Regions from separate parts of the Homo sapiens genome. Here region 1 is linked to region 2. A link means that fine-mapping ties the variant in region 2 to the expression of a gene that starts in the linked region. Tissue or cell type: skeletal muscle. Region 2 holds a variant in brackets; the other region holds the start of a gene. All regions are shown on one strand. Distances are from middle to middle.

Region 1 (2,602 bases), 950 kb before region 2:
GTGTGTGTGTGTATTTTTAGTAAAGACAGGGTTTCACCATGTTGGCCAGGCTGGTCTCCAACTCCTGGCCTCAAGTGATCCACCCACCTTGGACTCCTAAAGTGCTGGGTTTACAGGCGTCAGCCACTACACCCTGCTTTTTTTTTTTTTTTTTAAGAGACGTGTTGCCAGGCTGGAGTGCGGTGGTGCGATCTCGGCTCGCTGCAACCTCCGCCTCCCAGGTCCAAGTGATTCTCCTGCCTCAGCCTCCCGAGTAGCTGGAACTACAGGCACACGCCACCACACCCAGCTAATTTTTGTATGTTTAATAGATATGGATTTTCACCATGTTGGCCAGGATGGTCTGGATCTCCTGACCTCATGATCCGCCTGCCTCGGCCTCCCAAAGTGATGGGATTACAGGCGTGAGCCACCGCGCCCAGACTCCTGGCCTAGTTTGGTAGTTTCTTTCATAGTCGGTTTTCAGAAGACCCTTCCTGGGTCAGAAAACCCATCTACTTAAATTTAATTCGTAATGTACTGCTCTCTTTTTAATCCCTCCACTCCAAGAAGGCTACCTCATCACAAAGCCCTGAAGGCAGTGGAGGAAGGTTCAGCATTACTTAGCATTTGGGACCTTCACAGCCAGCTGCAGGGACTTGGTGGGGCTCCCAGAGCTTTCCTCCCCCCACCAGCTGAAACCCACCCTGCCACACCTGCCCAGAAATTGAGTTACTGACAATTCCTGTACCACAAAGGGAGAGCCCTTTACAAGAGAAAGACAGACATGGAGCTGATGAGGCCACGAGCTCCGCCTTCCTCTTCTCGGTCTGGGCCTGACTCCTGCCAGGCTTTCCAAGGGAACAGTGGTTCCTGTATCCCAAGGTTGTGCCCTGGGCACTCCAAGGGCACTGGACCTGTCCGGGCCTCCTTGGTGTAGAGGGATCTCTAGCCACTCTGGTGTGCCCCAGGCTCTCCATCCGGGAGACCAAAGGTCTTAGGGTAATTCCTGCCTCCGGCTCTATTCCATGGGGACCCTGGTGCTCTGCAAAGCCTCGTGAGCTGAAACCCTAGGTCCCAGGGATCCAACAGACCGAGTCTGCCATTCCAGGATGAGAGTCCCCTTGACGCATGTTCACTCTTCTGGGGACCGTGCGCCGCCGACCCCGGGCCCTGGGCGTTCTATGACCACCCCTGTGAGCACAGGGCTCTGGACAGCCCAGGTCTCAGTCCCGAGTGCTGCCAGGCCCCGGGGCCGGGAGCATCCTGAGTTTGCCCCACGGAGACCCCCACAAGAGCACCGAGCTCTCAATTCCAGAAACCCAGCGCTCCAGGCCTCCCATTCCCAGGGTCTCCGTGTACCGAGGCCTCCCTGCCCCGAGGTCTCCGGGCCCCTGCCGAGGACCCCAGCCCCGCTCCCGCCCCTGCTCACCATGACGCCAGCGGACAGGCCCAGCGGCGACTCCGGGACCAGGGCGCCCGCCCCCGGAAGCCACGCCGTTTCCCGGCAACCGCTGGGCGATGCCGCGATAAGTCACAAGATCCTCGCGAGACTCCGCCGGGCAGCGGCCCTGCCAAAGGCGGGAGTGCGTCCCTAGAGACGGGCGTCCGGAAGGAACCCGGTTGTGAACGTTGGGAAAATGTCGCCGGCAGCCCAGAAGCCTTTCGCTGCAGGGCATGTTTTGCTTATTGCTGGAACCTAAGCTCCACGAGGGGGGAACCCTTCACTTCTATCCTTCAGCGCCTAGAACAGCACACAGCACGTGCTCAGTAAAGACGTGCTGATGAAGGACCATTGAAGGAATGATCAATCAGCCACCCAAGCCTCTGAAACTTTCCCCAAATGAGATTCAAATCTGGGCAAACACTCTATCCCCTGGGCCTCACTCACCCCACCCGCCCACCTTTGAAGGGCCCTCCCAGCTGCTGCGCTGGTGGGTTTACACACACCTCAAAAACGCAGAAATCGGAAAGAAAAATACGTTCCAGTTTAGTTCCAAATGTTTGAAATCAGTAAGTATTCCTTTCACAAAAATAAACTGCTCTTCCTGAAGAGGCCTCCTCCCCACTCCTCACGGATGAAAAGAAACCAGAGGCTTCCCGACAGGCCCTGCAGAAAACAAACAGCTGCCACTTTCCTTTTCTAACTAATCTCTTGTTCTGAAAACTGCTAGCCATTTTACAATTTCTAAAATGAATCTGCCATCCGTGAAACCACCCTGTTACCTACATACAACCATCTATGTCACCCAGAAAGCTGAGTTTGTCATAAACAGGTGCTTTTTTTTTTTTTTTTTTTTGGAGACAGGGTCTCCTTCTGTCGCCTAGGCTGTGATCACAACTCACTGCAGCCTCGACCTCCTGGGCTCAAGCAATCCTCCCACCTCAGCCTCCTGAGAAGCCAGGACTACAGGTGTGAGACACCATACCCAGCTTTTTTTTTTAAGTTTTTAATAGAGACGGGGTCTTGCTTTATTGCCCAGAGTGGTCTCAAACTCCTGGCCTCAAGTGATCCTCCTGCCTCGGCCTCCCAAAGTGCTGGGAGCACGTGAGCCCCACGCCCAGCCCTAAGCTCTCATCTTTAACATCTTCTTAAAAAGTGGTCATCTACTTGGGAGGTTGA
Region 2 (2,602 bases):
GCTCATATGGACACACCCACATACATTCACAGACGTGCTCAGTGTACACACTCACATGCATTCACATACACAATGTATGCACACACACATATACACCCTCACACGGTCACACGTGCACACACACGTGCTCATAGGGACACACCCGCATACATTCACAGATGTGCTCACAGTGTACACACTCACACGCATGCACACAATGTATGTACACACACATATACACCCTCACACAGTCACACATGTGCACACATTAACACACCCTCGCACTCGCATGCATCAACTCAGCTCTCACCATGAACCCACTGCAGCTGGCAGCACAAAAGGTAAAATTAATCGGCAGCCGGGAGGGTGGGTTGCAGTCACGTGGCCGTCAGCCGCAGACATTGCATTTCAATCAAGGGTGCAGAGTTGTTGGGAGGTGCCCCGGCTGGAGGCCTGTCTTTTGCTCCACTGGGCCCAGCACAACAATGAGCCCAGCAAGAGCGTCAGTGGCGAGGGCGGTGCTCTCACTGGTCTCCTTGGCCTCCTGGCTGCAGCCACACTGGGCCAGACCTTCTTTGTTCAGCAGGCACTGGTGACGCCTTCTCGACGCGGACGTGAGGTGTGTTTACACACTCAGTGACCTGGGCTGGACATAGCTACGGCAGGTACCCGGTAGCAGGGATGAGGCCTCTTGGGCTGGCCGTGACACCCTCCCCTGCAGCTCCAGCTGCCTGCCTGGGAGGAGGGGCTGGCCTGGGTCTGTGACAGCCACCCAGCAGCACTGCAGGGCCATGGGGCTCAGAAAATGCAGAGGCATCCCCCGCCCTGCCCAGGCATAGGATTGGCTGAGGCATCCTGCCTTCAGCCGGGTCCACACGTGACACGTCCACACGTGACAGGCCCACAGACGACAGGACCACACAACAGGTTCACACGTGACAGGTCCACACGTGACTGGTGCATGCATGACAGGTCCACACGTGACAGTCCACACGTGACAGGTCCACATGTGACAGGCCTACAGATGACAGGACCACACGACAGGTCCACACGTGACTGGTGCATGTATGACAGGTCCACACGTGACAGTCCACACGTGACAGATCCACACGTGACAGGCCCACAGACGACAGGACCACACGACAGGTTCACACGTGACAGGTCTACACGTGACTGGTGCATGTATGACAGGTCCACACGTGACAGTCCACACGTGACAGGTCCTCAC[A/G]TGACTGGTCCACACATGACAGGTCCTCACGTGACAGGTCCACACGTGACAGGCCCACAGACGACAGGACCACACGACAGGTCCACACGTGACTGGTGCATGTATGACAGGTCCACACGTGACAGTCCACACGTGACAGATCCACACGTGACAGGCCCACAGACGACAGGACCACACGACAGGTTCACACGTGACAGGTCCACACGTGACTGGTGCATGTATGACAGGTCCACACGTGAGAGTCCATACGTGACAGATCCACACGTGACAGGTCCTCACGTGACAGGTCCACACGTGACAGGCCCACAGATGACAGGACCACACGACAGGTCCACACGTGACTGGTGCATGTATGACAGGTCCACACGTGACAGATCCACACGTGACAGGCCCACAGACGACAGGACCACACGACAGGTTCACACGTGACAGGTCTACACGTGACTGGTGCATGTATGAGAGGTCCACACGTGACAGTCCACACGTGACAGGTCCACACGTGACAGTCCACACATGACAGGTCCTCACGTGACAGGCCCACAGACGACAGGACCACACGACAGATCCTCACGTGACAGGTCCACACGTGACAGGTCCTCACGTGACAGGTCCACACGTGACAGGTCCACACGTGACAGGTCCTCGTGACAGGTTCACATGTGACAGGTCTTCACGTGACAAGTTCACACATGACAGGTCCACACTCAACTGGTGCATGTATGACAGGTCCACACGTGACAGGTCCTCACGTGACTGGTGCATGCATGAGTCGTTCATGACATGGCTCATCCATGACATGACTGGGCCGTGTCAGTCCCAGCTCCCTACGGAATTTCGCTGACTGTGCTGGCTTCCAAGGCCGTGGCGCCTGCTCCCTGCGACACGGCTGCTGTGAGGACTCCTGCACACATACTACTCAGGAAAGGCAGCAACAGGGTGTTGTGAGCACACAGTGTCTGTCTTGGGAAGAAAAACGTAGGTTTTCTGGGAGGGAAATAGGTGGGTGTAGTTGTTTCCCGCATGGGCCGTGACCAAGTGCCACACGTGGGTGTGGAAATGGTGCTGCCGTTCTCCACAGCAGCAGCTCTCATACCCGCTGGCGTCCTGCAACTCGATTCAGTCCCGTCACCACCCGTGTGAAAGATCTCAGCGTGTCACACCCTCTCTAAATAGAAGCTGGAGGCCACGAAGGAGGGGTCCGCACATGTGGGGAGCGCCCGTGAGAAGAACCATGTGAGAGGCCGGGTGCGGCGGCTCAAACCATGTGAAGGCCGGGTGTGGCGGCTCACGTCTGTTATCCCAGCACTTCGGGAGGCTTAGGCAAGTGGATTGCTTGAGCCCAGGAGTTTGAGACCAGCCTGGGTTGGTCCAGGTCGAGACCCCGTCCCTATAAAA

What was found. PIP is the estimated chance that this variant, and not a neighbour inherited with it, causes the effect.
Region 1: DRC4 starts here. The variant in region 2 is fine-mapped to the expression of DRC4 in skeletal muscle (GTEx, PIP 0.98).

What each region holds. Positions count from the first base shown.
Region 1 is chr16:90,021,534-90,024,135 of GRCh38, reverse strand. It overlaps DRC4 (dynein regulatory complex subunit 4), which reads right to left and starts at 1,456. Exons shown (of 11, transcript NM_001481.3): 1 at 1,412-1,456. The coding sequence starts at 1,414.
Region 2 is chr16:89,073,352-89,075,953 of GRCh38, reverse strand. It overlaps LOC105371412 (a long non-coding RNA gene), which reads right to left. Exons shown (of 3, transcript XR_933889.3): 3 at 1-2,594. Among named protein-coding and RNA genes, the nearest start is that of ACSF3, 19 kb to the left of the region's middle. The variant A/G (reference allele first, on the strand shown) is at 1,208.